Linked DNA regions of Homo sapiens: all the other regions are linked to region 2. Evidence: fine-mapped expression QTL. A gene starts in region 2. Each other region holds a variant in brackets. All regions are shown on one strand. Distances are between the middles of the regions.

Region 1 (7,914 bases), 34 kb after region 2:
CATTCCAGACCTGCTGGGTTTTCTGATAATCTCTGGGGAAAATCAGAAATGGACGCTCTATGTAGTGGACTATGAGCCTTTAGGAAAGAAAGACCAGAGTTGGAAGCCCTTCACAGGATCATTAAAAACTCATCTAGGCTGGGCGCGGTGGCTCACGCCTGTAATCCCAGCACTTTGGGAGGCCGAGGAGGGCGGATCATGAGGTCAGGAGATCGAGACCATCCTGGTTAACACGGTGAAACCCCATCTCTACTAAAAATATAAAAAAGTAGCCGGGCGTGGTGGCAGGCGCCTGTAGTCCCAGCTACTCGGGAGGCTGAGGCAGGAGAATGGCGTGAACCCGGGAGGCGGAGCTTGCAGTGAGCTGAGGTGGCGCCACTGCACTTCAGCCTGGCAACAGAGCGAGATTCCGTCTCAAAAAAAAAAAAAAAAAAAAAAAAAAGGATGTAATTGTGCATCCAAATTTTTACCAAGGTCAGTTGTGAAACTCTTGCAGGAATGATGGGGAATTGCGGGCTGGATGCACCAAAGATCCAAATCAACAAATCAACGGATACTTGTCTCCCTGGAATGTCGCTAGCGGAGTGTCACAGGCTTGATCCTTGGCTTGTAAGAGTTTGTAATGCAAACACAAAACACCTGGGTTGTCAGAGCTGTGACTATTCATGGGGCTGCCTGGGAAAGTGACTGTTTGGATGACATGATGGAGGCTGTAAGAAAGTGAGGAAGATTGGGCCACATATAATAATGTGATATTTAACAAGGACAAATATTGAATCCAGAACTTTGGTTCAAAAAGCACAGGGTGAAATCTCAGCACTCTGGGAAGCCAAAGCAGAAGGATCGCTTGAGCCTAGGAGTCAAGACCCACCTGCGCAACATAGCGAGACCCTATCTCTTTTTGTTTTTTTTTTTTTTTGAGACAGAATTTCCCTCTTGTTGCCCAGGCTAGAGTGCAGTGGCACAATCTTGGCTCACTGCAACCTCTGCCTCCTGGGTTCAAGTGATTCTCCTGCCTCAGCCTCCTGAGTAGCTGGGATTACAGCCACTGCTACTATACCTGGCTAATTTTTTGTATTTTTAGTAGAGATAGGGTTTCATCATGTTGGCCAGGCTGGTCTCGAACTCCTGACCTCAGGTGATCCACCCACCTCGGCATCCCAAAGTGCTGGGATTACAGGCATGAGCCAAGGTGCCTGGCCACTATCTCTTTTGTTTGTTTGTTTTTAAATAGTGAAACCACCAAGCACAGTGGCTCACAAGCCATTGCTCTCCAGCCTGGGCAACAAGAGCGAAGCTCTGTCTCTAAATAAATAAATAAAATAGCGAAACCCCATCTCTACAAAAAACACAAAAATTAGCTGGATGTGTTGGCATGCACCTGTAGTCCCAGCTACTCAAGAAGCTGAGGCAGGAGTATCTCTTGAGTCCAGGAGATGCAGGCTGCAGTGAGTTATGATCATGCCACTGCATTCCAGCCTGGTTGACAGAGCAAGACCTTGTCTCAAAAAAAAAAAAAAAAAAAAAGAAAAGAAAAGAAAAGAAAAGCACAGGAACATGGAGTGGGAAAGATGGGCTTTGGAAAGCCCACATGGAAAACCTTCAGGGAGGGGAAAGTGCCTACGGTGTGCCCTTCCTGATTAAATGTCATCGCCATAGCTGGACACAATGGTGCATGCCTGTAGTCCCAGCTACTCAGGAGGCTGAGGCAGGAGAATCGCTTGAACCTGGGAGGCAGAGGTTGCAGTGAGCTGAGATCATGCCACTGCACTCCAGCCTGGGGGACAGAGCCAGACTCCGTCTCAAAAAAAAAAAACCATATATATATATATATACACACACACACACACACACACACACACAGCCCCCATACAACACTTTGCATACTGCAAAGTAGTATTATTATTCATATTTTACAGATGGAGAAACTGAGGCACAGAACAATTAAATCAGTTGCCTGTGGGAAGCACCCTCAGATTGGGCTCTGCCCATCTGCGGAACCCTTGTCAGCAGGTCCCTGCCACAGCTTCTGACTGCCCTTTACCTGTCCAGTCCTCCACTGACAGGCATCTGCCAAACCCACTTCATCCTCTCCCTGGGCCACGGCCCGTCTGTGCTAACCACATGGCAACACTCCCAGCCACCCCTTCTGGCTTCTCGAATCCCTGGGACCACCTGTGTGCCTGATGCTATGAAGCACTGAGCACCCACCAGCCCTCCTGACTCATTACCCTACTCCACCGCTGGGGAAACCGTAACTCCATTTCCCACTTCTGTCTGGCCGAGGTCCCTGACCTCTCCCTTCCCACTCCAAGGCCAGGCAGGGGGCCTCTTCCAGTCCCCAAGCAGCTGTTTCCCGTCCCTTCACACCAGCTGCAAGGGGTGGATCAACAGGCCAGCGGGTCATCGCAGAGGACAGCCAATGCCGTTCATCACTTGTTTTCAGGAAATTGCCAGGGAAGAACTGGGTTGTGGAAAAAGTCCAGATCAAGGGTTGGGGGGTCTGGGTCTACTTCTCACACAGCTGGCCGTATGACGCAATGGGGTCAGCGTCCTCCTCCGGTGACCTGGTCACACCCAAATCCCAGGCCCTGGGATCTCAGAAGACAGCTGTGGGCCATTCCTAAGACCTAAACTAGCTGAAGCAGTTGGATCCAGAGGCTGGGCTAAGAAAGGAATGGATCCCTCCAGAATGTCAAATAATAACAACGCTTTTGATATTTACTATGGGCCAGCCTCTAGTCTAAGGAATTTATGGATATTTACTTTTTTTTTTTTTTTTTTTAGAGGCAATGTCTCGCTCACTCTGTCACCCAGGCTGGAGTCAGTGGCTCGATCATAGCTCACTGTGGCCTTGAACCCCTGAGCTCAAGTGATCCGCCTCAGCCTCACAAATAGCTGAGACTACAGGAATGGACCTCTACACCTGGCTAATTCAGGCTAATATTTTAAATTTTTTGGTTTTTTGTTTTAGATGGAGTCATGCTCTGTCGCCCAGGCTGGAGTGCAGTGGCACAATCTCAGCTCACTGCAATCTCCGCCTCCCGGGTTCAAGTGATTCTCCTGCCTCAGCCTCCCAAGCAGCTGGGATTACAGGTGTGCACCACCATGCCTGGCTAATTTTTGTATTTTTAGTAGAGACGGAGTTTCACCATGTTGGCCAGGCTGGTCTCAAACCAGGCGTGAGCCGTGCCCGGCCTAATTTTATTTTTTGTAGATACAGGTGTCTTGCTATATTGCCCAGGCTGGCCTCCAACTCCTGGGCTCAAGCAATCTTCCCAGTTCAGCCTCCCAGAGTGCTGGGATTACAAGCATGAGCTACTGCACCTGACCTTGACTTATTTTTTAAAATCCTAGCTAAATCCACTGAGGTTGGATTTCCTATGATCATTGTCCCTTCCCCTATTGTACAGATGGAGAAACTGAGACACAGAACAGTTTAGTGTCCTGCCTGGGTCCTGTCATAAACAGGCAGAGGCAGGTTTTAAACCCAGGCAGGTCTTCCAGAGTCCTTGCTTTGGCCACTACACTTGAATGCTTTCTTTTATTTTTATTTTTGAGACGGAGTCTCTGTCACCCAGGCTGGAGTGCAGTGGCAGGATCTCGGCTCACTGCAACCTCTGAGCCCAGGGTTCAAGCGACTCTCCTGCCTCAGCATCCTGAGTAGCTGGGATTACAGGCACTTGCCACCACAGCTGGCTAATTTTTGAATTTTTAGTAGAGACGGGTTTCATCATGTTGGTCAGTCTGGTCTCAAACTCCTGACCTCAAGAGATCAGCCCTACTTGACCTCCCAAAGTGCTGGGATAACAGGCATGAACCACCAAGGAGCCTCAGGGGGCTTGTCCCTCCCAGCCTACACCTGTGTCAGACTCTGATTGGGGGCGGAGGTGCCCACCACCTCTGCGGCTTCAGGGGCTGGGGCCTCACTAAGTGGGGCGTTTAGCTGCCTTCCCTCTCCTCCGCTCCCTGCCCTGACTGTCACAGCTAGATCCGGATTCTGTGCCTGAGACCCCCTCATTAGGCCGTCAGAGCCGACGCCACACGCCCCCTCTCCCGCCCCAGGGACTATTTTGGGACGCAGAGCTGTGATCACCAAACCGGAGTGGTGGGGGCCACGGCAGGCCA[G/C]TGAGGATCCCAGTCCTGGGGAGAGGGCGCCTTCCAGGAGGCCCTGAGTACTGGCAGCCCCTGATGTCTGCTGGGACTCTCAGACTCTTGAGGTGGGTGGGTGGGGGACCGGTGGCGGCAGGAAGGTGGGTGTTAAAGTCATCATCACCCGTCCACCCCCAGGTCGTCCTAGCCGCACAGAGACAGAGCAGTTTCCTACAGGAAGCGCCGCCGGGCGGTTCCATCCGCTACCCATTGTCTGCGGGTCCGGGGGCCGTGCGTCCCTCCCCAAAACACCATTTCCGTGACACGCTCCCACACCCAGCCCAGCGCGAGGGGCTGGCTGGGGTCCCCAGGCCGTCCCGGGAAAGGGTCCCAGGGCCGGTTGTGGCATTAGGGAGCGAACGAGCCCCGCAGTGAGCTCCCGAAGGGCGAGAGGGGGGCAAGCCCACGCCTCCAGAGCCCCCCACTCTGCTCGCTACCCACCTGGGACTTCCAATGTGGGAGGGGTCCCGGCCAGAGGACACGACGCCCGCCCCGTCGCAGCGGGCAGAGCCCTCAGTGGGGCTGGAAACGCAGCGCAGCGCCGGGTCCCGGTGCGTCCCCGAATCCACCCACCCAGGGGTCCCCCATCCGTGTCCCCGCAAGCTGGCAATTTACCTGAAGCCGCAGCCCCAGCCGCGCCCGCACCCGAGCCCGCCCCCTCGAAGTCCGGGGACTGATTATCAAGGCCTTCGCCCTAACTGACGGCCACGCCAGCCAACCAGCACCCGAGGCTCTCCAAGCCGCCCAGTGGGACGGTGGGGTGGGACAGGCAGGCGGGGCCTGGAATGTAGGGGTGGTGACTGAGGGCGGGCCCTGGAGTGACGGTCGCCGAGCGCTGGCTGGCGGCATTTCTGCACCAGCAGAGGTCAAGTCTCTGCCCAGCGCCGGGCCAAGGAGCTTGGATTTGATCCACAGGCACGAGGGAGCCATGGGAGAACTATGAGTAGAAGAGTAACCCGGTGGGATTTCTATAACTGGCACTTATTTCGCAGTGCCTGGGTGAAGTATCAGGTCCCGGATCTTCCCCACCGCAGGGCCTCTGCACATGCTGTTCCACCTACCTGAAATGCTTTCCCTTGCACCTGTACACGTAGGTACTTTTTGAGGCTCCCCTACTGTTTTTTGTTTTGTTTTGTTTTTGTTTTTTGAGACGGAGTCCCAGGCTGGAGTGCAGTGACACTCACTGCAACCTCCGCCTCCTGGGTTCAAGCAATTCTCCTGCCTCAGCCTCCCGAGTAGCTGGGATTACAGACACACACCACCACGTCCAGCTAATATTTGTATTTTTAGTAGAGATGGGGTTTCACCATGTTGGCCGGGCTGGTCTGGAACTCCTGACCTCAAGTGATCCGCCCGCCTCAGCCTCCCAAAGTGTTGGGATTACAGGCGTGAGCCACCGCGCCCGGCCTTCCCTACTTTCTGAGGTTCAGCTTTTGTGTTGCTGCCCCCTAAATTCCTGACATAGCCCCTCCCCAGTTAGTATTTTTCTCATCACTCTATTGTATTAACCTAATAGCTACTTTTACTATCTGGAAAAAAAAAAAAAAGCAGACTCTGTTATTGGCAGGCGCAGTGACTCACGCCTGTAAATCCAGTATTTAGGGAGGCATAGATGGGAGGATAGCTTGAGCCAGGAGTTGAGACCAGCCTGGGCAACATAGCAAGACCTAGTTCTCAAAACAAAAGAAAACAACAAAACAAAAAGACAAAAACGAAACACTCAGTTATTTATTTGGTTTATTTTTTAATTTAATTTAATTTTTTTTTAGACAGAGTCTCGCTCTGTCCCAGGCTGGAGTGCAGTGGTGCGATCTTGGCTCACTGCAACCTCTGCCTCCTGGGGTTCAAGCGATTCTCCTGCCTCAGCCTTCTAAGTAGCTGGGATTACAGGCGCACACCACCACGCCCAGCTAATTTTTGTATTTTTAGTAGAGACAGGGTTTCACCATGTTGCCCAGGCTGGTCTCGAACTCCTGACCTCAGGTGATCCGCCCACCTCAGCCTCCCAAAGTGCTGGGATTACAGGCGTGAGCCACCATGCCTGGCTGGTTATTTATTGGTTTACCTGCTTGCCATCTCACTAAAGTGTCGGCACCAAGGCCAGGTGGGGTGGCTCATGCCTGTAATCCTAGCACCTCCTGAGGCTGAGGTGGGAGGATCTTTTGAGCCCAGCAGCTCAAGACCAGCCTGGGCAACAGAGTGAGACTCTGTCTCTAAATTAAGTGTCAGCACCATGGGAACAGGAAACTGGTTTTGATAACTGCTTTATCCAGCGACCCTAGTACACAGTAGATGCTTAATAAATGTTTGCTGAAATAATGTTTTCTTTTTCTTTTTTGAGTCAGGGTCTCATTCTGTTGCCCAGGGTAGAGTGCTGTGGCACAATATCTCAGCTCACTACAAACTCCGCCTCCCAGGTTAAAGAGATCCTCCTGCCTCAGCCTCCCAAGTAGCTGGGATTACAAGTGTGTGCTACGCCTAGCTAATTTTTTTTATTTTTAGTAGAGACGGGCTTTTACTACTTTGCCCAGGCTGGTCTTCAACTCCTTGGCTCAAGCAATCCACCTGCCTTGGCCTCACAAAGTGCTGGGATCACAGGCATAAGCCACAGCACCTGGCCAGAATATAGTAATATTTTAAAATGTATTTTAACATCTGATACTTTTTAAAAAAAAACAAAATTCCTGGGCTATTTTAATTGGTTGATTCTTTCAGTTAAAACTGTGGAATTCTGTCGCGTTTCCCCACAGAAACTCCATTGGAATTTTCTTCTTTGTTCCTTTGAGACAAAGTTTACTCTGTTGCCGATGCTGGAGTTCTGTGGCAAGACCTATGGCTCACTGCAGCCTTGAACTCCCAGACTCAAGCAATCCTCCCACCTCAACCTCCCGAGTAGCTGGGACTACAGGCATGTGCTACCACGTCCAGCAGGTTTCTTATTTTTGTAAGGACAGGGTCTCTCTATGTTGCCCAGGCTGGTCGCAAATTCCTGGGTTCAAGTGATTCTCCTGCCTCAGCCTCCCTAAATAGTGGCATAACAGGCATGAGCCGCTGCACTTGGCCTCCATTGGAATGTTTAAAATATATGTGTGTGTGTGTGTGTGTATATATATATATATATATATATATATATATATATAATTTTTTTTTTTTTTTGAGACGGAGTCTTGCTCTGTCACCCAGGCTGGAGTACAGTGGTGTGATCTCCACTCACTGCAAGATCCGCCTCCCGGGTTCATGCCATTCTCCTGTCTCAGCCTCCCGAATAGCTGGGACTATAGGCACCCACCACCACACCTGGCTGTTTTTGTATTTTTAGTAGAGACGGGGTTTCACCGTGTTAGCCAGGATGGTCTTGATCTCCTGACCTCGTGATCTGCCTGCCTCAGCCTCCCAAAGTGCTGGGATTACAGGCGTGAGCCACCGCACCCAGCCCTAAAATATTTTTATTGTGGCCGGGTGCGGTGGCTCACGCCTGTAATCCCAGCACTTTGGGAGGCCAGGGCAGGCAGATCACCTGATATCGGGAGTTCGAGACCAGCCTGACCAACATGGAGAAACTCCGTCTCTACTAAAAACACAAAATTATCCCAGTGTAGTGGTGCATGCCTGTAATCACAGCTACTTGGGAGGCTGAGGCAGGAGAATCACTTGAACCTGGGAGGCAGAGGTTGCAGTGAGCCGAGAGTGAGCCATTGCATTCCAGCCTGGGCAACGAGAGTGAAACTCTGTCTCAAAAAAAAAAAAAAAAAAAAAAAAATA
Region 2 (7,914 bases):
GAGTGCACTGGCACAATCCTAGCTCACTGCAGCGGCAACCTCCCAGGATCAAGTGATCGATCCTCCCACCCTAGCCTCCCAAAGTGCTGGGATTGCAGGCGTGAGCCACTGCGCCCAGCCCAAGCCCATCTTAGACCCCGCTTCTTATGACCCACAGACCCAAGTCGCACCCATCCCTGCGGCCCTGCCTTTCCCACAAGCTCCACCTCCGCGTGCCTGGCCCCTGACAAACCACCCTCAGGCCCCGCCCCCTGTAAGCCCCGCCAAGGGGCGTGGCCACTCACTGCACTCCTCCTCATCGCTGCCATCGCTGCAGTCCAAGTCCCTGTCGCAGCGCCAGGTGAGGGGCACGCATAAGCCACTGGTGCGGCACTGGAACTTGGTGGGTGGGCACGAGCCTGAGCTGGGGCCTGCGAGATGGATGCAAATGAAGCCTGGGAAGCTGGAGGCTGGACCTTTCTCCAAGAGCACAGTAGTCACTGGCTGTGATCCGCAGGAGACAGGCGAAGTCCCGGGATATAGGAACCACACTGGCGGCTGCTTGTTACTGAGCCCCTAGTACGAGTGGGGTTCAGAGTGTAGCAGTTCCTGGGCTCAAGAGCCCCACTGGGCAGGTGCTACTGCACTCCCCAGGTTACAGAGAAAGGAACCAAGAGGAGGCCATACAGCTGGTGGCAGAGGCTGGGTGCAGTGGCTCACGCCTGTAATCTCAGCACTTTGGCAGGCCGAGGCAGGTGGATCACTTGAGGTCACGAGTTCGAGACCAGCCTGGCCTACATGGAAACCCCGTCTCTGTTAAAAATACAAAAATTAGCCGGGCGTGGTAGTGCACGCCTGTAATGCCAGCTACTCGGGAGGCTGAAGCATGAGAATCGCTTAAACCTGGGAGATGGAGGTTGCAATGAACCGAAATCATACTGCTGCACTCCAGCCTGGGCGACAGAACGAGACTCCGTCACCACAAAAAAGAAAAAAAAAAGAGCTGGTAGCGGAGTTGGGCTTCGAACTCAGGTCTCGCTGATCCCAGAGTCTTCACCAGGCTCCTCATAGCGAGATGATCTGCCAGGGAGACCTCCAAACTCAGTGGTTAAAGAGACTGAGGGACGGGCCATTTTTCCACATGCCCTGGGTCAGGCTCCCGGGCTCAGGTCAGCAGGGAGGGTCTATCTCCTCTGCGTAGCAAAAGGGAAACTGAGGCAGTGGGTGGGAAACTGAGGCACTGGGTAGAAAATCTGCTCAGTCACCAAGTCCTGTTGCCCCGCCTCCTGAATTCCTCCCAGACCTATCACTCTCCCCATCCTAAATGTGTCAGCTCCTCACCAGAGCCCCAGGCCCCAGGCCCCAAGGTCCATTAGGACACCAGAGACTTGCCTTTCCCTCTCTCCTCCCTACACCCTGTGTTTTCCCCTCAATTTTCAGATCTCAGCTGATTTCCTGGGAGGGTTCTCATGTCCCTCTTGGAGACCTAGGAAGCACTGCCTCCCATGTCTAACAACTGTCCTTAAAGCCCTGGTCATGCCTGTCCACCCACAGACTGGACATTCTGTGGAGGTCAGGGCTGTGACCTGGCCGCCTAAACCCAGGGCAGTGCCTGATTATAAGTGGACACAGGTCACATAAGGGTCCAAGCTGGGTCCAGAGAAGATCCCGGCTGTCCTAGATTCTGAGCAGGGAAGCTCAGCTGCTTGCCGACCTGGAGGGGCACGGAGGGGCCCGCAACCTGGGCCAAGGGACAGAGGAAGGGAGTGGCCTTTACGGCTTCCTCCTGGGTGCGGCCAGGGGAGGTGGCAAATCCGCCACCCTGGCTTAGCTTCACTCTGCCAAGGCCTTTAACCTCTTCCACCTTTACCCACCAGCCATGAGCCTCCAACCCCCCACTCCCCACTGCCAGCCCCTCCTCGGCCTTCAGGCCTAATTGCACCTACTTGCCACAGGGTCCCTGAGCTCTATGGATCCCAGAAGAGCTGTGGACAAACCGGTGCCTGCTTCCTTCCCCGCCCCCGGGAGATCTGGCAGCCTCCAGGTGTGGCTCTCCACCCAGGCGCAGACTTCCACAGCCCTGACACCTCTGACCTCCCTTCGCTGGACTGCGGGAGTGTGTATCCCTCTGCAAAGTGGACAGTAGAGCACAGCAGTCCCCGCCTCATAGGGTGTAAGCCTGACAGGAGTTACAGTGACCAGTGACTTTCTCTCCTGGCCTCAGTTTCCTCACCTGTAAACGGGGTATGCTGGGAATCCCTACCTCAACATCCTGAGAAAAAAGAGACTGTGTATAGAGTTTTGTCCTGTAATCCCAGCACTTTGGGAGGCTGAGGCGGACAGAACACTTGAGGTCAGGAGTTCGAGACCAGTCTGGCCAACATGGTGAAACCCCATCTCTACTAAAAATACAAAAATTAGCCGGGCATGGTGACGGTGCCTGTAGTCCCAAGCTACTCGGGAGGCTGAGGCATGAGAATTGCTTAAACCCGGGAGGCGGAGGGTGCAGTGAGCCAACATTGCACTGCACTCCAGCCAGGGCGACAGAGGGAGACTCAAAAAAAAAAAAACAAAAACTTTTGTACTTGGTTAACGTGAACGCTGCCTCCTTAAAAAAAAACAAACAAAAAAAAACCCAGGAACATTTAACGTGAATGTCAGGGACTTTGGGATGAGTCCAGGGACCTAGAAGTGCGGAATGCACAAAGGAGCTGGGAAAGTGTGTGAGCCTGAGCCCAGGGCTGCAAGTTGGGAGTGCCTGAGTGCACAGGGAGGCCACTCCAACCCTCCAGCTGCCTCTAGGGGTATCAGAGAGGGAGCCCGTCCCCACTGGCCACCAATACCTCTTAGGCCAGGGCGAACACGTCCACGGGGGTATATTCAACTTGTGACCCCAGTCTCTGCGAGAGCCTGCAGTAGCATGGGGGGGAGAGACCTCGCGTTCTCTAAGGATGGAGGACAAAGGAGGAGAGACTGGGAGGGCAGGGACGGTTGCGGAACGGTCACAAGGCCTGGGCGCGAGGGTTTGGAAGGCAAAGGTGCGAGAGGCACCAGGTGACCCGTCCTGCGTGATTAGCGGTCGGACAATCTGAGCCTGCTAAGAGCTTTCCTGACCACGCTGGTATGAAGGGCGGCTTGGAGGTGACAATGGGGGACGACAGGGCACAGCAGGTGTGGAGACGGTGTGCAGGGCCGGAGCAAAACCGTTAAAGGCAGGTGGAGACACCCTCCTCCCCTCCCCCAGCATGGGGTCTTCCTAGCACCAGTGCGCGCCTTCCCACAAGCGATGAAGTCCAAGTCCACGTGCTGGGGGAGTGTCATGAACTGACGTGCGGTGCAGCCAGTGACTAGGCGTTGTCGGTGCGCGGCGGCGGGGCGAAGCCTCGCGAGGGGTGGGAGCCCGCGCTGCGGGGCGTCACTCACCTGCGGCCTGGGCAGAGGTCGGGGTGGAAAGCGGGCTCGCGGCGGCCTCCAGGCCTAGTCCGAGGCCGAGCAGCAGCAGCAGCGCCAGGCCCAGAGCCCCTGTTCGCCACGCTCCAACCTGCGCCATCCAACCGCCGCTCATGCTGTCCCCACAGCGGCGCCGGCCACGCGCTGTCCAGACCGCTCTCTTATCCCTGCGCACGCGCACGCGCGGGGTTGGGGCGGGGCCCAAGCCCCTGAGTTCTGCGGCGCCCGCGGCTACGCGTACCGTAAATGTCAGAATAGCAGGGAAAAGAGAATTAGAGGCCCGTCCCCACTTTCCCCAGTGACCAGATCAGTTGAAAGGTATGGAGCCCGCTTGAAGTTAGAAACTTCTGGGGATGGGAAGGAATTTGTTGGTGTTCATTTGCATTATTTCCCGTTCCAAATGAGGACTGCTGCAAATGTTACTGCCTCGTGATCTTCTTTAATATGGCAGCCACGCCCCTCAGGCACTCCGCATTTCCTCCCTCATCCCACTGCTTTTGTGGCGCCGACAGGTAATTTATTTTATTTACTTATTCTGGTTTGTTGTCCGAGTCCCCATAGAATGCTAGCTACTGGAGGGCAGGGATCTTCTGTTGCTCACTGCTTTATTCTCAGGATCTGACACATAGTGCTTGACTCATAGTAGGCTCTTAGTAAACATTTGGTGAGTAAATGAATAAATGAAACGTCCATTCTCGGAGTCGGGTTGCTTGGGGGGGAAAAAGGAAAGGAAATCAATTAATTAATTAAATTTAATAATAAAGGCCGGGCGCGGTGGGTCACGTGTGTGATCCCAGCATTTTGGGAAGCAGAGGCGGGCAGATCGCTTGAGCCCAGGAGTTCGAGATCAGCCTGGGCAACACAGCAAGTCCCCGCCCGCCTCAAGAAAAAAGAAAATTAGCTGGGCATGGTGGCTCTAATTTGTAGTCCCAGCTACTCAGGAGGCTGAGGTGGGAGAATCACTTGGGGCTGCACTCCAGCGTGGGTGACAGTGAGACCCCATTTGTTAGAAAAGTTGGCCGGCGCGCTGGCTCACGCCTGTTAACCCCAGCACTTTGGGAGGCCGAGGCAGGCGGATCACGAGGTCAGGAGTTCTAAACCAGCCTGGCCAACATAGTAAAACTCCCGTCTCTACCAAAAATACAAAAATTAGCCGGGTGTGGTAACATGCTCCTGTAGTCCCAGCTACTAGGGAGGCTGAGATGGGAGAATCGCTTGAACCCGGGAGGCGGAGGTTGCAGTGCGCCGAGACCACATCATTGAACTCCAGCCTGGGTGACAGAGTGAGACTCTGTCTCAAAAAAAAAAAAAAGTTGTGGTCATAAAACTTGGTTCAGATGCCGTCAGCGGCATGCCTTGCCTAGGGTCTTGCCCTCCTTGTGGCCTCTGCACACCCTGCCTAGTCTTTCCTTCCCTCCTGACCTTTCTGAATCTGATTCATCCTTTTGCCCCAAGCAGAATCCCACCTTCTCCAGGAAGGTGTTAGCCTTTGTAGGACCCACTCTGGGACACTGGTACCTGCTGCCTGTAGCCGTGGCCTTTCCCCTTCCAGAGGGCAGGGCGGTCTCAGCACCCTCTTGGTCCACAGCTGATCTTTTTTAGCTGCTGAAGGGTCTGGGGCTGTGCCCTGGGGAAGCCATGACACTCCCCTGCGTAGGGTCACTGGGTGGCTCCTGCAGCCAGACTTGGACACCCTCCCTTTGCAGATTTCTGTCTCCTCCCCAGGAACCAGCTGCCTTCCTTCTGGGGCGAATTCATTCTTATCCCACAGCCCCAGCATAATGGGATCTGGCTCAGGGAGGCCTTTCCTGATCTGCCCTAGGTTTGCCTTCCCTGTGAGCAGCCCTTACTGTCCTCTGCCTTCCCCGTTGAGCTGCAGGGTGACCATGGTCAAGCAGGAGCCTCAGTGGGAAGGTGCTGAGGAAGGTTCATGTGAGAAGTGGCTGTGGGAGCCCTCAAGAGATGGAAGTTAGGCCAGGCGCGGTGGCTCACGCCTGTAATCCCAACACTTCGGGAGGCAGAGGTGGGCGGATCACTTGAGGTCAGGAGTTTGAGACCAGCCTGGCCAACATGGCGAAACCCCGTCTCTACTAAAAATACAAAAATTAGCTGGGCTTGTGGCAGGCGCCTGTAATCCCAGCTACTCGGGAGGCTGAGGCAAGAGAATCACTTGAACCCAGGAGGCAGAGGTTATAGTGAGCCGTGATCGCGCCATTGTACTCTAGCCTGGGCAACAAGAGCGAAACTCTGTCTCAAAAAAAAAAAAGAAGTGAGAAGTCTGTGGCTGGCCTACTGAGTGTCCGCACATACACCCCTTACCCCACCTGACTGGTCTTCACAATCAATGCTCCCCAACAGCCAGCGGTCCTGGGAGTCCAACCTCCCAGAAGGATCACCCACTCCCACCACTCTCAAGGTCAGAGCCTGGCCTTTGGGGGAAAGGGCAGTGCTGTCTCCAGGGCCTCTGCACCCAGGGACAGTGTCTGTCCCACCCCTGGAGTGCCAACAGAGTTGGGAGACTCAGCACTGACTTCACCCCAAAATCCAAGTAAGCTGGGTATTGCTTAAAATCAGGGGCCAGGCGTGGTGGCTCACACCTGTAATCCCAACACTTTGGGAGGCCAAGGCGGGCGGATCACCTGAGGTCAGGAATTTGAGACCAGCCTGGCCATCTCTACAAAAAAAAAAAAAAATTAGCGGGTATGGTGGTGCACACCCGTAGTCCCAGCTACTCGGGAGGCTGAGGCAGAATTGCTTGAGCCCAGGAGGCAGAGGTTGCAGTGACCTGAGATCGTGCCGTTGCGTTCCAGCCTGGGTGACAAGCGCGAAAACTCTGGCTCCTGCAGCCAGATTTCTATCTCCTCCCCAGGAACCAGCTGCCTTCCTTCTGGAGCTAACTCATTCTCATCCCACAGCCCCAGCATAATGGTTTCTGGCTCAGGGAGGCCTTTCCTGATCTGCCCTAGGTCTGCCTTCCCTGTAAGCAGCCCTCACTGTCCTTTGCCTTCCCCGTTGAGCTACAGGGTGACCAAGGTCAAGCAGAGGCCTCAGTGGGAAGGTCTAAAAAATAAAAATAAAATCAGGCCAGGTGTGGTGGCTCATGCCTGTAATCCCAGCACTTTGGGAGGTCAAGGCAGGAGGATCGCTTGAGGCCAGGAGTTCAAGATCAGCCTGGGAAACATGGTGAGACTCTGTCTCTATTTTTTTATTTTTTAAAGTAAAACTAGAAGTGATACCTGAGCTCTACGTATTTGTCATAAATTAGGTCACATTCTCCCTGGAGGAAATCCAAGGAGGCAAAGTAGTCGGGTGGCCGTGAGGGTGCAGTGTCACAGGTAAGGCTGGTCCGAGGACAGCTCCCACCTCTTTATGGGAGGAGCTGGAGTCACCGCCTTCTTCTCAGTGGCAGCTACAGCAGAGCTGGAGGAGGGAAAGACTTCAGTGAGGGTTTCCAAAGAACAGTGTGGAAAGATCTGAGGGAGCCCACACCTGCCCCGGGACAAACACACCCACAGGGACTTTCTGGACCTGCAGGACAGACAGCAGGGTGTTCCAGAATGCCAACCCCTCCAACGCAGCCCCTCAGAGGATCAGCCAACGCCAGGTGGGAGCTAGCAAGCCTCCTCTCTCCCCTGAGCCCTGTATGAACCCCCTGCTGTGGCCCCCAGGCCCAGAACCCACTGTGGAGAGCTGGGCTCCTCCCTTCCCACTTTTGGTCTCCAGCGTACACAAGGCCCCCACCCCCATTCCTGCTGCCCCTCAAAACAGGATGCTGGCAAAAGGGCCAAGCGATCAGGTGACAATGGCCTCCAGCTATTCCTGCCTCAGACTGGGCAAGAACTGCATGGCAGGCGCTACTGTGTGGGCGCAGAGCCAGGAAGATGGGGCACCGCCCTCAGGAAGACTCAGGCTGGTGGGGCTGAGAATCCATGCGCAAATGGCAACTGCAAAACGCATCTCTGGCCCAGAGCTGGCCAAGAGGGAGCCCCCAGGAGACCCTGTGCCGGCAAGTCCAGGACGAGCACCCTCCCCTCTCACCCCACCCACCTGAGCCTGTGGAGCTCACACACTTCACAGCCTAAGCAAGAAAGGAAGCAGGAGGGTGGGGTGATGGAGGAGGCGCCCCAGGGGTGGAGGCACAGGACCTCCCAGGAGCCTCAAGGAAATGGAAAAGGCAGAAGTGGCCTCCCTGGGAAATGCACACATCTCTGGGGGCATGGCAAGGGGCTGTGTGGGAACAAGGTATCTTGCCACACTCTGGTGCTGGACTCCAGTGAATCAGAAGGTGACAACAAGGACCACTCCACTGAGTTCCTTCTTTTTGAGACAGACTCTTGCTCTGTCACCCAGGCTGGTGTGCAGTGGCACAATCTCAGTTCACTGCAACGTCCGCCTCCCAGGCTTGAGTGATTCTCTTGCCTCAGCCTCCCAAGTAACTGGGATTACAGGTGTGCACCATCACTCCCGGCTAATTTTTGTATTTTC
Region 3 (7,914 bases), 62 kb after region 2:
CCCAAATCTCCGTTCATCTCGAACCACAGCATGTCCACGTGTGTCCGATGCAGACTCGCGGTTCTCTAAGTTCACGGCCCCACACGGTTTCTCTGTGGTCCTCATCCTTCCCTGCATCTGTGGCTGTCCACAGCCAACTGGGTGAAAGTTTGGATCCCCCTCTCACACCCTAGGGTCAGTGGCAGGCTTCCAGCACTGTAGACCTGAGGGTTCTCTCCTCCCCAAGCTCCCGCTCCTTCCCACCTCCGTGCTGCCCGCCCCCAACCCCGCCAGGCTAGCATCTCAGCGTGGTCAGGGTCCTGTCCACCCTCCCAAAGCCACCATCCCAGGATGAGGGGCTTCTGGAGGGTGACGGGGGAAGGCACAAGTCCTGGCTGGGAAATGCGGTGGAAGGGGGCAGGGGTTCTGTGGGTTCGGGACTCCCAGACTCTTGGCTCAGGCCCGCCAAGTAGGAGAAAGTTCAGAGCTGGGAAGGCGAACAGCTGGCATTCATGGAAGCCACACTGGTGGTTTGGCCGCGTGCCCATCCTTACTGGATGGGAGGAAAGTAGGGGAAAGGGGAGATGCCTGAGGGGCCGGAAAGCGTCTTCCTGGTCACTCTGGGCCCGCCCCCACCCCCACCGTGCAGACTCATTTCGACCTTTCCCCTACTTTTCCGGCTGGGCTGGGGGCGGTTCCTCCCAGTCTGGAGCGTCTGAGCCTCCAGACGTGCTCAACGCCATCCTCCCCTCCTCCCTCCCTCTTTCTTTCCTCAACCCTGCCTCCTCTCCCTCTAGGAGCTGGGACCCCAGGCAGAGCCTCTGAGATGCTCCTGCTCAGCACAGTTCTTCCCGTTCTGGACCTGCTGCCTCATTCATTCATTCATTCATTCATTTGTCAAGACTGTTTTGTTTGCTTTTTGAGACGGAGTCTCGCTCTGTTGTCCAGGCTGGAGTGCAGTGGCGCAATCTCAGCTCACTGCAACCTCTGCCTCCCACTGGGTTCAAGTGATTCTCCTGCCTCAGCCTCTCAAGTAGATGGGATTATAGGCGCCTACCGCCACCACGCCCAGCTAATTTTTATTCATTTATCAAGTCTTTTTTTTTTTTGAGACAGAGTCTCACTCTGTCACCCAGGTTGGAGTGCAATGGTTCAACCTCAGCTGACTGCAACCTCTGCCTCCCGGGTTCAAGTGATTCTCCTGCCTCTGCCTCCTAAGGAGCTGGGATTACTGGCGTCCACCATCACACCCAGCTAATCTTTGTATGTTTTACTAGAGATGGGGTTTGGCCATGTTGACCAGGCTGGTCTCAAACTCCTGACCGATCCGCCCGCCTCCCAAAGTGCTGGATTACAGGCATGAACCACTGCGCCCGGCCCATTCCTCAAGTCTTTATTGAGCAGCTGCTATGCGCTGGGGCCTGCGTGGATGCTGGTGCCAGGCTGTGGGCAGAGCTGCTCCTTGTCCCCAGCCTCATGGAGCCTCCATTGAGTCAGAGGAGAGACCATTAGATGACCTCAGTGTCCAGGAGTGGGAAGTCCTTGCTCAATTCCCATTTGGGGTGTTCTGGCCTGGTCTGGGGGTGAGGCAAGGCAGGGTGTCCTTCCAGAAGCTGGGACCCAGAGAGAGAAGTGAGGAAAGAGAGTCCCGCCGGGCGCAGTGGTTCACACCTGTAATCCCAGCACTTTGGGAGGCCAAGGCTGGCGGATCACGAGGTCAGGAGATCGAGACCAGTCTGGCCAACATGGTGAAACCCCCGTCTCTACAAATAATGCAAAAACTAGTCGGGCGTGGTGGCACATGCCTGTAGTCCCAGCTGCTCCGGAGGCTGCGGCAGAATTGCTTGAACCTGGGAGGCGGAGGTTGCAGTGAGCCAAGATTGCGCCACTGCACTCCAGCCTGGCGACAGAGCGAGACTCCGTATCAAAAAACAAAACAAAAAAAGAGAGTCCCAGGCAGGGGGAACAGCATGTGCAAAGTCCCTGTGGCAGGACGGTGTGTGGTACAAGGGTGGGAAGAAAGCCTGTGTGCCAGAGAGGGTGTGGGTACAGCATGGCAGGAGGAGGATGGGCACGGGGGCTGGTCCTCCAGGTGCCTTGTGGACCATGCTGAGGAAGGACATAGGGAGCCATGGAAGAGGTTAGGCAGATGGCAGAGAGGTGGTCATGAGATAAGATTTGCCTTTTACTTCCCTGGTCATCCACTGTTAAGCCCCCAGATATGCCTGGCTCCTGAGACCCCCCCCAGGGGCTGCCCTCCTGTTTCAAGTCTCCACTTTATCTCCCTTCAGGGCTGCCCAGGGATTGCCAGGAGCTGTTCCAGGTTGGGGAGAGGCAGAGTGGACTATTTGAAATCCAGCCTCAGGGGTCTCCGCCATTTTTGGTGAACTGCAAGATGACCTCAGGTAGGGTGTGTTAGTCCACCAGGGGCCCCTCTCCCCATAGGCCCTGTTGTCTTTCTTTAAATTGAAAACAAAACAAAACAAAAAAATTAAAGGCAGGGTCTTGCTATGTTGCCCAAGCTGGTCTTTTTTTTTTTTTTTTTTTTTGAGATGGAGTTTTGCTCTTGGAGCTGGAGTGCAATGCCACGATCTCAGCTCACTGAAACCTCCGCCTCCCGGGTTCAAGCAATTCTCCAGCGTCAGCCTCCCCAGTAGCTGAGACTACAGGTGCGAGCAACCACACCCAGCTAATTTTTGTATTTTTAGTAGAGACTGGGTTTCACCATGTTGGTCTGGCTGGTCTCAAACTCCTGACCTCAAATGATTTGCCGACTTTGGCCTCCCAAAATGCTGGGATTATAGGCATTAGCCACTGCTCCTGGCCTCTTTTCTTTAAAATGCAGCCCTTGTCTGGGTGTAGTGGCTCATATCTGTAATCCCGACACTTTGGGAGGCCTATCATGAGGATCACTTGAGCCCAGAAGTTCGAGACCAGCCTGGACAACATAGTGAGAGCTCATCTTTACAAAAAATTTTGTAAAAGTAAAAAAAAAGGCCAAGTGCAGTGGCTCACACCTGTAATCCCAGCACTTTGGGAGGTTGAGGCAGACAGATCACGAGGTCAGGAGTTCGAGACCAGCCTGACCAACATGGTGAAACCCCGTCTCTACTAAAAATACAAAAATTAGCCGGGCA[T/A]GGTGGTGTGCACCTGTAATCCCAGCTACTCAGGTGGCTGAGGCAGGAGAATCTCTTGAACCTGGGAGGCAGAGGTTGCAGTGAGCTGAGATGACGCCACCGCACTCCAGCCTGGGCGACAGAGCGAGACTCCGTCCCCCCATCAAAAAAATAAAAAAGAGAAAATAAAATAAAATAAAATAAAATTCAGCCCTTGCTGGGCATGGTGGCACATGCCTGTAGTCCCAGCTACTCGGGAGGCCAAGGCAGGAGGGTCACTTCAGCCCAGGAGTTAAAGGCTGCCGTGAGCCGTGATCACACCTGTGAATAGCCACCGCACTCCAACCTGGGCAACACAACAAAACCTCGTTTCTAAAAAAAAACAAAGGCTGAGCACGGTGGCTTACACCTGAAATGCCAGCACTTTGGGAGGCTGAGGCGGGCAAATCACTTGAGGTCAGAAGTTCAAGACCAGCCTGGCCAACATGGTGAAACCCTATCTCTACCAACATAAACATTAGCCGGGCGTGCCTGTGATTCCAGCTGCTTGTGGGGCTGAAGCACAAGAATCGCTTGAGCCCCGAAGGCAGAGGTTGCAGTGAGCTGAGATTGCGGCACTGCGATCCAGCCTGGGCAACAGAGTGAGACTCCATCTCTAAAAAAAAAAAAAAAAAAAAAGAAAGCTTTTTTTTCCACTGAGAAGTCCTTTCCATTACAAGAGGTTACAACACGGGGTTTTACCCAGTTCAGCTGGCCCAGAGAGGCTTTGCAGATTTCCACTGCCTACTCCCTCCCACACTCAGTCCCTGCTGGGTTCTTGGGACAAAGATCTTCCCAAGGCCAGCCCATAATATTCCTCCCTCTGACCCACCCTCCTCGAGTCCTCCAGGGATGAGTGAGGGAGCTGCTGTCTTCCTGGGTTTGGAGGGGGTTTGGTGCTTGGCAGCCAGATGAGGGAGTGGGGTCGTCTGTGAAGAGGGACTTCCTGGTGACCTTGTACCTTTCTGGGCAGATGGAGGCTGGACAGTAATTCAGAGGCGCCACGATGGCTCAGTGGACTTCAACCGGCCCTGGGAAGCCTACAAGGCGGGGTTTGGGGATCCCCACGGTAGGTGTTTCTAGTGGGGACAGAGGCAGGGGAGGAAGAGGGACCCTCAGAAGTGGCCCTGCCTCATGGAGTGGCCTCTCCCACTCCAGGCGAGTTCTGGCTGGGTCTGGAGAAGGTGCATAGCATCACGGGGGACCGCAACAGCCGCCTGGCCGTGCAGCTGCGGGACTGGGATGGCAACGCCGAGTTGCTGCAGTTCTCCGTGCACCTGGGTGGCGAGGACACGGCCTATAGCCTGCAGCTCACTGCACCCGTGGCCGGCCAGCTGGGCGCCACCACCGTCCCACCCAGCGGCCTCTCCGTACCCTTCTCCACTTGGGACCAGGATCACGACCTCCGCAGGGACAAGAACTGCGCCAAGAGCCTCTCTGGTGAGCAGGCCCTGCCATGCCACACCCAGCCAGCAGCTTCCCTCCTTATCTTTCTGCTGCTCTGTCCTGCCTTCAACCCCACATTGCATCTGTTTCCTGCCCCCACCTCTTCCTTACATGCCGTGTGTGTGATTGGGCCACTAACTTAGCCTATCTGGCCTCAGTTTTCCCATCCTGAAAAGGGTCTTGACCGTCTTTACTTTTATTTACTTATGTGTTTGTTTATTTATTTATTTATGTATTTATTTTTTGAGACGGAGTCTCACTTTGTCACCCAGGCTGGAGTGCTTTGTGGCACGATCTTGGCTCACTGCAAGCTCCACCTCCTGAGTTCACACCATTCTCCTGCCTCAGCCTCCCGAGTAGCTGGGACTATAGGTGCCCACCACCACGCCTGGCTAATTTTTTTGTATTTTTAGTAGAGATGGGGTTTCACCGTGTTAGCCAGGATGGTCTCGATCTCCTGACCTCGTGATCTGCCTGCCTCAGCCTCCCAAAGTGCTGGGATTACAGGCGTGAGCCACCGCGCCCGGCCTACTTATTTATTTTTTGAGACAGAGTCCCGCTGTGTCTCCCAGGCTGGAGTGCAAGTGACGTGATCTTGGCTCACTGCAGCCTCCGCCTCCTGGGTTCAAGTGATTCTCCTGCCTCAGCCTCCTGAGTAGCTGGGATTACAGGTTCCCGCCACCATGCACAGATAATTGTTTTGTATTTTTAGTAGAGACGGGGTTTCACCATGTTGGCCAGGGTGGTCTTGAACTCCTGACCTCAAGTGATCTGCCCACCTCGGCCTCCCAAAGTGTTGGGATTACAGGCGTGAGCCACAATACCCGGCCACAAACATCTTTATAATGGTGCTCCACAGGATTCTTTTTTTTTTTTTTTTTTTGAAACAGGGTCTCACTCTGTTGCCTAAGCTGGAGTGCAGTGGTGCGATCTCGGCTCACTGCAACCTCCACCTCCCGGGTTCAAGCAATTCTCAAAAAAAAAAAAAAATTAGGCACGGTGGCTCACACTTGCAATCCCAGCACTTTGGGAGGCTGAAGCGAGTGGATCACTTGAGCCCAGGAGACCAATCTGAGCAACAGGGCGAAATCCTGTCTCAATTAAAAATACAAAAAACTAGCTGGGCATGGTGGTGCCTGCCTGTGTTCCCATCTACTTGGGAGGCTGAGTTGGGAGGATCTCTTGAGCCTAGGAGATAAGGCTGCAGTGAGCTGAGACTGCGCCACTGCACTCAAGCCTGGGTGACAGAGTGAGACCCCTGCCTCAAAAGAAAAAGAAAAAATGCAGGCATGGTGGCTCACACCTGTGGTCCCAGCTACTTGGGAGGCCCAGGTACAAGAATCACTTGAGCCCGTAAGGTTGACGCTGCATTGAGCCATCACCACACCACTGCACTCCAGCCTGGGCAATGGAGCCAGGCCCTGTCTCAAAAAAAATTGTTTTTAAACTTAAAAATAAGGCCGGGTGTGGGGGCTCACACCTGTAATCCCAGCACTTTGGGAGGCCGAGGTGGGTGGATCACCTGAGGTCAGGAGTTCAAAACTAGCCTGGCCAACATGGTGAAACCCTGTCTCTACTAAAAATACAAAAATTAGGCCAGGCGCAGTGGGTCATACCTGTAATCCCAGCACTTTGGGAGGCTGAGGAGGGTGGATCACATGAGGTAAGGAGTTTGAGACCAACCTGGCCAACATGGTGAAACCCCCTCACTACTAAAAATACAAAAACTAGCCAGGCGTGGTGGCGGGTGCCTGTAATCCCGGCTACTCAGGAGGCTGAGGCATGAGAATCCCTTGAACCTGGGAGGCAGAGGTGCAGTGAGCCGAGATTGTGCCACTGCACTCCAGCCTGGGAGATAGAGTGAGACTCAGTCTCAAAAAAAAAGACCAAAAATTAGCCAGGTGTGGTGGCAGGCGCCTGTAATCCCAGCTACTCGGGAGGCTGAGGGAGGAGAATCACTTAAACCTGAGAGACGGAGGTTGCAGTGAGCTGAGATCGCACCACTGCACTCCAGCCTGGGTGACAGAGTAAGACTCAATCTCAAAAAAAAAAAAGTCAAGTCCAAAGCCCAGCCTGGTCCCCAACCTGCCTCATCCTCAACCCTATCCCTATCTCCTTTCAGCCCCATCGGTGGCTCAAAGACCTGACCATGTTCCCTCTCCCCTGACCCCGGCAGGAGGCTGGTGGTTTGGCACCTGCAGCCATTCCAACCTCAACGGCCAGTACTTCCGCTCCATCCCACAGCAGCGGCAGAAGCTTAAGAAGGGAATCTTCTGGAAGACCTGGCGGGGCCGCTACTACCCGCTGCAGGCCACCACCATGTTGATCCAGCCCATGGCAGCAGAGGCAGCCTCCTAGCGTCCTGGCTGGGCCTGGTCCCAGGCCCACGAAAGACGGTGACTCTTGGCTCTGCCCGAGGATGTGGCCGTTCCCTGCCTGGGCAGGGGCTCCAAGGAGGGGCCATCTGGAAACTTGTGGACAGAGAAGAAGACCACGACTGGAGAAGCCCCCTTTCTGAGTGCAGGGGGGCTGCATGCGTTGCCTCCTGAGATCGAGGCTGCAGGATATGCTCAGACTCTAGAGGCGTGGACCAAGGGGCATGGAGCTTCACTCCTTGCTGGCCAGGGAGTTGGGGACTCAGAGGGACCACTTGGGGCCAGCCAGACTGGCCTCAATGGCGGACTCAGTCACATTGACTGACGGGGACCAGGGCTTGTGTGGGTCGAGAGCGCCCTCATGGTGCTGGTGCTGTTGTGTGTAGGTCCCCTGGGGACACAAGCAGGCGCCAATGGTATCTGGGCGGAGCTCACAGAGTTCTTGGAATAAAAGCAACCTCAGAACACTTTGTTCTTTGTTCTTGTTTGTTTTCTTTCTTTTTTTTCTCTTTCTTTAGTTCACAGATCTAGTAAGTTACCCTCAGTTTGTTTTAAAAAGTGAACAAAGTCCATGTAAACATGTTCCCAGGGCCAGGCACGGTGTCTCGTGCCTGTAATCCCAGCCATTTGTGAGGCCGAGACAGGCAGGTCACTTGAGGTCAGCAGTTCGAGACCAGCCGGGCCAACATGGTGGAACCCCCATCTCTACAAAAAAATACAAAAATTAGCCGAGCATGGTGGTGCACGTCTGTAGTCCCAGCTACTCTAGAGGCTGACGCAGAAGAATCACTTGAGCCAAGGAGGCAGAGGCTGCAAATAAGCCGAGATTGCGCCACTGCACTCCAGCCTGGGCAACAGAGCAAGACTCCATCTCAAAACAAAAATAATTTTTTTTTCGTAGAGGCAGGGTCTCATTCTATTGTCCAGGCTGGTCTCAAACACCGAGACTCAAGGGATCC
Region 4 (7,914 bases), 24 kb before region 2:
CTTTTTGAGACGGAGTTTCCCTCTTGTTGCCCAGGCTGGAGTGCAATGGTACAATCTCGGCTCACTGCAACCTCCGCCTCTCAGATTCAAGCAAGTCTCCTGCCTCAGCCTCCCAAGTAGCTGGGATTACAGGCATGTGTCACCATGCCCACCTAATTTTGTATTTTTAGTAGAGACGGGTTTCACTATGTTGGTCAAGCTGGTCTTGAACTCCCGACCTCAGGTGATCCACCTGCCTCAGCCTCCCAAAGTGCTGGGATTACAGGCGTGAGCCACCACACTTAGGCTTTTTTTTTTTTTTTTTTTGAAACAGACTCTCACTCTTTTGCCCAGGCTGGAGTGCAGTGGTGGGATCTTTGGCTCACTACAACCTCTGCCTCCTGTTCTCAAGTATTTCTCGTGCCTCAGCCTCCTGAGTAGCTGGGATTCAAGTGTGCACCACCACACCGAGCTAATTTTTTGTATTTTTAGTAGAGGCAGGCTCTCCCTATGTTGCCCAGGCTGGTTTCAAACTGCTGGCCTTGTGCAATCCACCCACCTCAGCCTCCTGAAGTTCTGGGATGACAAGTGTGAGCCACCACACCTGGCCTTAATCACCCCTTTAAAGACCCTGTATCCGGCCTGGCATGGTGGCTCACGCCTGTAATCCCAGCACTTTGGGAGGCCAAGGTGGGTGGATCACCTGAGGTCAAGAGTTCGAGACTAGCCTGGCCAACATAGTGAAACTCTGTCTCTACTAAAAATACAAAAATTAGCTGGGCGTGGTGGTGAGCGCCTGTAATCCCAGCTACTTGGGAGGCTGAGGCAGGAAAATGACTTGAACCCGGGAGGCGGAGGTTGCAGTGAGCCGAGATCGCGCCACTGTACTCCAGCCTGGTGGCAGAGCAAGACTCTGTCTCAAAAAAAAAAAAAAAGAAATTAACCGCTGCTCACAGCTGTGCTAGCTTACAGGAACAAAGGCCAAGTGCCAATAACCACAAATGAGCCACAAGATGAGAGCTGACCTCAGCAGTGCTCCATAGGCCTGATTCCTCACTCCACTGGCATAATAAAATCTCCACAGCCAGGGTGCACTGGCTCCCAGCTGTCATCCAAGCACTTTGGGAGGGTGAGAAAGGCGGCTGGTCTCAAACTCCTGACTTCAAGTGATCACCCACACCTCAGCCTCCCAAAGTGCTGAGATTACAGGCGTAAGCCACCACACCCGGACTATAACATCCATTCTTTTAGGGAGCCCCAGAACCTGTGAAATTAATCTCTGCTCTGGCCGGGCATGGTGGCTCACACCTGTAATCCCAGCACTTTGGGAGGCTGAGGCGGGTGGATCACGAGGTCAGGACATCGAGACCAGCCTGGCCAACATGGTGAAACCTGGTGTCTACTAAAGATACAAAAAAGTAGCCAGGCATGGTGGTGTGTGCCTGTAATCCTAGCTATTTAGGAGGCTGAGGCAGGAGAAATGCTTGAACCTGGGAGGCAGAGGTTGCAGTGAGCCGAGATCACACCATTGCACTCCAGCCTGGGCAACAGGGCGACACTCTGTCTCAAAAAAAAAGAAATTAACCCCTGCTCACAGCTGTGCTAGTTTACAGGCATGAAGGCCGGATGCCATTAACCACAACTGAGCCACAAGATGAGAGCTGACCTCAGCAGTGCTCCATCTGCCTGAATCCTCACTCCATGGGCAGAGTAAAATCTCCACAGCCAGGGCACAATGGCTCCAAGCTGTCATCCCAGCATTTTGGGAGTGTGAGGAGGGAGGATTGCTTAAGTCAGAGAGTTCAAGACCACCCTGGGCAACATGGTAAGACCCTCTCTTGGCCTGTAATCCCAGCACTTCAGGAGGCCAAGGTGGGCAGATCACGAGGTCAGGAGTTTGAGACCACCCTGGCCAACATGGTGAAACCCTGTCTCTACTAAAAATACAAAAAAAAAAAAAATTAGCCGGGTGTGGTGGCACGCGCCTGTTACTACTCAGGAGGCTGAGGCAGGAGAATTGCTTGAACCCGAGAGTCAGAAGTTGCAGTGAGCTGAGATTGTGCCACTGCACTCCAGCCTGAGCGACACAGCGAGACTCAGTCTCAGAAAAAAAAAAAAAAGACCCTCTCTCTACAAAAAATAATGTAAAAATTAGCCGGGCGTGGTGATGCATGCCTGTAGTCCCACCTACTTGGGAAGCTGAGGCAGGAGGATTGCTTGAGCTCAGAAGGTCGAGGCTGCAGTGAGCTACGATCGCACCACTGTACTTCAGCCTGAGCAACAGAGTGAGGTGCTGTTTCAAAAAAAAAAAAAAAAAAAAGCTGGGATTATATGGGTCACACCTATAATCCCAGCTACTCAGGAGGCTAAGGCAGGAGAATTGCTTGAACCTGGGAGGCGGAGGTGGCAGTGAGCTGAGATCGCCCCACTGCACTCCAGCCTGGGTGACTGATCGAGACTCTGTCTCAAAAAAAGAAAAACCAAAAAAAAAAAGTCTTCAGTGGGGAGAGGTGCACTTTGCTAAGCACATATAATGCCAGGTACAAAAGAAAAGAAAGGCTGAACACTTCAGTGCCCCCTAGAAAGCCCCACCTCTTTCCAGGAATCCCCACCCCCAGTCTGCATCTACATGCCCTAGGAAACTTTAAAACTCCCCTCATCACACCTGCAGGGAGTAGGCACTTTGAGCAGGAGTTCCTCCCTTTCTCCATTCATTGATTGACGAATAAAGTTTCTATCTTGCTTTACTGAACCTGGTCTTGTTCTGTTGGTGCAAATGGCAACCCGCAGAGAAAGGACTCATTAGTCTCAAACAATCCCCTTAAGAGTGGGTAACAGCGGACACCATGGCTCACACCTGTGATCCCAGTGCTTTGGGAGGCTAGGGTGGGAGGATCACTTGAGCTGAGGAGTTAAGAGACCAGCCTGGGCAACGTAGAAAGACCTCATCTCTAAAAAAAAAAAAAAAAAAAAAAAAAAGGCAGAGGGGAGGGGGGCGGGCGTGGTGTCTCACGCCTGTAACCCCTGCACTTTGGGAGGCCAAGGCAGGCAAATCACCTGAGGTCGGGAGTTTGAGACCAGCCTGACCAACATGGAGAAGCCCCGTCTCTACTAAAAATACAAAAAATTAGCCAGGCATGATGGCACATGCCTATAATCCCAGCTACTCGGGAGGCTGAGGCAGGAGAATCACTTGAACCCAGGAGGCAAAGTTTGCCGAGATGGAGCCATTGCACTCCAGCCTGGGCAACAAGAGGGAAACTCCACCAAAAAAAAAAAAAAAAAAAAAAAAAAAAAAAAAAAAAAGGCGAGGGGGAGGAGGGAGACTTTAAAAAAAGAAAAATAAAAAAAGTTTTTTTTGGCCAGGCACTGTGGCTCACGCCTGTAATCCCAGTACTTTGGAAGGCCGAGGTGAGCGGATTGCCTGAGGTCAGGAGTTCGAGACCAGTCTGGCCAACATGGTGAAACCCCGTGTCTACTACAAATAGAAAACAAATTCGCCTGATGTGTTAGTGCAGGCCTGTAGTCCCAGGTACTCAGGAGGCTGAGACGGGAGAATCGCTTGAACCCGGGAG[G/A]CAGAGGTTGCAGTGAGCCGAGATTGCACCACTGCACTCCAGCCAGGTAGACAGAGCAAGGCTCCGTCTCAAAAATAAATAAATAAATAAATAAATAAATAAATAATGTTTTTGAGATAGTCTCAAAAGGGTGTTCAGGCCCTTATGTGTTCCCCCCACTCACACACACACACACACACACACACACACACACACACACACACAGGATCTGGGCTGACCTGGACTCCACTGAATCCACAGAATACAGCATCGGCAACATTGACCCAGCAGTCTCTCTGCTTTGTGTGTTGGGGAACCCCAAGTCACCGTGGCAGGAGTGTGGCCACCTTGCTCAGGAGTCCACGTGGAGAGGCCACATGGAGAGGTCAGCTATCCCAGACATGACAGACCTTCTGGATGGGACATCCAGCCAGCCCGGCCCCCAGATGATGGCAGCCACTGTCACATGGAACAAATGAACCCCCAGTGAGCCTGGTCAGCCCAGAGCCAGGAGAGAGGATGCGACAACAGGTGTTTGGAGCCAGTGGGCATGGGGCGGTTTGCTCCACTGAGAACAAGAATGCATGACAGTCAGGACGGTCCAGAGCCTAGAGGTCCACTTAGGTGGCATGTGGCACCCACACCAGCCTCACAGCCGGGCACACATATCCCTGACATACCCTGTTGTCCGTCGAGGCTGACTCGTGACAGAGAAAACGTTAGAGAAAAAACCTGGCTGGATGCAGTGGCTCACACCTGTAATCCCAACGCTGTGGGGGGCCGAGGTGGGAGAATTCCTTGAGATCAGGTGTTGGAGGCCAGCCTGGGCAACATAGACCAACCCTGACTTTACAAAAATAAAAAATTAGCTGGGTGTGATACATGTGACTGTAATCCCAAAACTCGGGAGACTGAGGCAGGAGGATTTTTCTTTTTTTTGAGATGGAGTCTTGCTCTTGTCACCCAGGCTGGAGTGCAATGGCAGGATCTTGGCTCTCTGCAACCTCTGCCTCCCAGGTTCAAGCAATTCTCTTGCCTCAGCCTCCCAAGTAGCTGGGATTACAGGCGCCTGCCACCACACCCGGCTAATATTTCTATTTTTAGTAGAGATGTGGTTTCACCATGTTGGCCAGGCTGGTCTCGAACTCCTCACCTCAGGTGATCCGCCCACCTTGGCCTCCCAAAGTGCTGGGATTACAGGCATGAGCCACCGTGCCCAGCCCAGGCAGATCTCTTGATCCCAGTTCAAGGCTGCAGTGAGCTGTGATCACACTACTGCACTCCAACCTGGGCAACAGGTCCATCTGAGTCCATCTCTAACGGTCCCAGGGAGGTCACTCCCCTGCAAGGAGGCTACTGTGGCCCCCAACATCCCATTCAGAGATTTAGAAGCTGAGGATAAGGGAGGAACTTTGCCCTGTCACCCAGAAGTCAGGGTGTGAATTAACTTTACCGGTCACCAACCTTTTTGGCAGCAGGGACTGGTTTCATGGAAGACAATTTTTCCACGGACCAGGGGTGGGGATGGTTTCAGGATGATTCAAGTACATTACTTGTTTTTGTTTGTTTTTTGAGACAGTCTTGCTGTGACACGCAGGCTGGAATGCAGTGGCCTGATCACGGCTCACTGCAGCCTGGACCTCCCAGGCTCAAGCAATCCTCCTACTTCAGCCTCCCAAGTAGCTGAGACTACAAGTGCACACCACCACCCACAGCTAGTTAAAAAAAAATGTATAGGCCAGGCACAGTGGTTCACGCCTGTAATCCCAGCACTTTAGGAGGCCGAGGCGGGCGGATCACCTGAGGTCGGGAGTTCAAGACCAGCCTGACCAACATGGAGAAACCCCTTATCTACTAAAAATACAAAATTAGCCAGGTGGGGTGGCACATGCCTGTAATCCCAGCAACAAGAACGAAACTCTGTCTCAAAAAAAAAAAAAAAAAAAAAATTTGCAGAGATCCCTATGATGCCCAGGATAAATAATAAAACCTTTTTTTTCTTTTTTGAGACAGAGTCTCACTCTGTCACCCAGGCTGCAGTACAATGGCGTGATCTCAGCTCACTGCAATTTCCACCTCCCAGGTTCAAGCGATTCTCCTGTCTCAGCCTCCCGAGTAGCTGGGATTACAGACGCCTGCCACCACACCCAACCAATTTTTTGTATTTTTGGTAGAGACAGGGTTTCACCATATTGGCCAGGCTGGGGGGGAGGGAAAAAAAAGAGGGAAAGGGGGAGAATATCCAATTTCTTTTATTTTTAAATTTTTTATTTTAGAGACAGGGTTTTGCTCTGTTGCCCAGGCTGGAATGCAGTGGTGTGATCACAGATCACTGCAGCTTCCAACACTTGGGCTCAAGCAATCCTCCTGCCTCAGGCTTCCCAGTAGCTAGGATGACAGGTGCACACAACCACACCCAGCTAATTTTTTTATTTTTGGTAGAGATTAGGCCTTGCTATGTTGTCCAGGATGATCTGAATCTCCTAGCCTCAAACCATCCTCCCACCTCGGCCTCCCAAGCACTAGGATTACATGTGTGAGTCACCAAAATGAGTACAGGGCTTCCTTTTGGGGTCATGAAAATATTCTGGCAGTAGATAGATATGGTTGCACTGCACTGTGAATGTACCAAATGCCACTGAATCATTCACTTCACAATGGTTAATTTTATGTTATATGAATTTCACTTTGATAAAAACAGATGTGGCCGGGCACAATGGCTCATGCCTGTAATCCCAGCACTTGAGAGGCCAAGGCCAGTCGATCACCTGAGGTCAGGAGTTCCAGACCAGCCTAACCAATATGGTGAAACCCCATCTCGAATCTCTACTAAAAATACAAAAATTAGCCAGGCATGGTAGCATGCACCTGTTGTCCCAGCTACAGGAGGCTGAGACAGAAGAATTGCTTGAACCTGGGAGGTGGAGGTTGCAGTGAGCCAAGATCACACCACTGCACTCCAGCACTCCAGGTTGGATGACCGAGCACGACTCCATCTCAAAAAAAAAAAAAAAAAAAAAAAAAAAAAAAAAAAAAAAGAGGAAGCCAGGCACTGTGGCTAAATTCTATCATCCCAGCCCTTTGGGAGGCCAAGGCAGGTGGATGACTTGAGGCTAGGAGCTTGAGACCAGCCTGGGCAACATAATGAGACCCCATCTCACAAACAAAAAAGATTTCTTGGCCAGGAATGGTGGCTGACGCCTGTAACCCCAGCACTTTGAGAGTCTGAGGCAGGTGGATCACAAGGTCAGGAGTTCAAGACCAGCCTAGCAAACATAGTGAAAACCCCATCTCTACTAAAGATACAAAAAATTAGCTGGGCGTGGTGGCACGTGCCTGTAATGCCAGCTACTCGGGAGGCTAAGGCAGGAGAATCACTCTAACCCAGGAGGCAGAAGTTGCAGTGAGCTGAGATCACAGCACCACTGCACTCCAGCCTAGGCAACAGAGCGAGACTCTGTCTCAAAAACAAAAAACAAGAACAAAAACAAACAACAGTTCTAGAGATGGGTGGTGGTGATGAGTGCACAACATTGTAAAAATACTGAATACCTTTGAAGCCCACCTTAAAATTGTTAAAGTGGTCAATTTTATGTTATTTTTAGGTATAATACTTACGTACTTTTTGTATTTTTTTCTATTATGTATTGATATGTATATTTAACAGTAGAAAAAAAATGATGGTCACTCGATCGGAAACAGAAAAGGTTAAAGCAAAAGTAAAATGCATGAAAACCAGGGAGAACTGCCAGATAAGCACATGGTCAGTGACCCTGGATTAGCCCGAGGCTGACTGGGTGTTGGACATGGGGAACGACCACCACCTAGGGGCAACTTGCCATCTGCCGCTATGTTCTTTCTGGGACTTGGAAAAACATGCATTACTAGGAACTTCCCCTACTGTTATTCCCTGTTTCCCCCGCCACCCCGCCCGAGACAGAGTCTTACTCTGTCTCCTAAGCCGGAGTGCAATGGGCGATCTCGGCTCACTGCAACACCCGCTTCCCGGGTCCAAGCGATCCTCCTGTCTCAGCCTCCTGAGAAGCTGGGATTATAGGCACAGGCCACCATGCCTGGCTAATGTTTGTATTTTTAGTAAAGACGGGATTTCGCCACGTTGGTCAGGCTGGTCTCGAGCTCCTGACCTCAAGTGATCCGACAGCCTTGGCCTCCCAAAGTGCTGGGATTACAGACGTCAGCCACCGCACCCGGCCTGTTATTTCCTCTTAATACTGACATCATCCTCCTGTTTACCAATCTTTGTCACAGACCAGGTGGCATCTCTGAGAAAACAGAAATCAGCAGGAGAGACCTTCCAGAGCCACTGCCCTCCATCAACCTGCAGACCTGCATCAGGACCCAGACGCAGTGGCTCTTCCTC

The links.
Region 1: its variant is fine-mapped to the expression of CD320 in whole blood (TOPMed, PIP above 0.99).
Region 3: its variant is fine-mapped to the expression of CD320 in whole blood (INTERVAL, PIP above 0.99).
Region 4: its variant is fine-mapped to the expression of CD320 in NK cells (Gilchrist 2021, PIP 0.94).

The regions. Positions count from the first base shown.
Region 1 is chr19:8,338,458-8,346,371 of GRCh38, forward strand. KANK3 (KN motif and ankyrin repeat domains 3) reads right to left here and starts at 4,805. Exons shown (of 11, transcript NM_198471.3): 1 at 4,768-4,805. RefSeq lists enhancers at 1,813-2,313, 4,248-5,039. The variant G/C (reference allele first, on the strand shown) is at 4,129.
Region 2 is chr19:8,304,747-8,312,660 of GRCh38, forward strand. CD320 (CD320 molecule) reads right to left here and starts at 3,612. Exons shown (of 5, transcript NM_016579.4): 1 at 3,403-3,612; 2 at 285-410. The coding sequence starts at 3,544. It overlaps NDUFA7 (NADH:ubiquinone oxidoreductase subunit A7), which reads right to left. Exons shown (of 4, transcript NM_005001.5): 4 at 6,538-6,849. The coding sequence ends at 6,759. RefSeq lists enhancers at 2,375-3,115, 3,102-3,231, 3,116-3,855, 3,911-4,440, 7,195-7,797 and silencers at 3,312-3,401, 3,376-3,714.
Region 3 is chr19:8,366,949-8,374,862 of GRCh38, forward strand. It overlaps ANGPTL4 (angiopoietin like 4), which reads left to right. Exons shown (of 7, transcript NM_139314.3): 4 at 2,271-2,384; 5 at 4,108-4,203; 6 at 4,293-4,574; 7 at 6,757-7,422. The coding sequence ends at 6,938. It overlaps RAB11B-AS1 (RAB11B antisense RNA 1), which reads right to left. Exons shown (of 3, transcript NR_038237.1): 3 at 7,428-7,660. Among named protein-coding and RNA genes, the nearest start is that of ANGPTL4, 6.8 kb to the left of the region's middle. The variant T/A (reference allele first, on the strand shown) is at 3,117.
Region 4 is chr19:8,281,092-8,289,005 of GRCh38, forward strand. No RefSeq gene overlaps it. Among named protein-coding and RNA genes, the nearest start is that of CD320, 23 kb to the right of the region's middle. The variant G/A (reference allele first, on the strand shown) is at 3,555.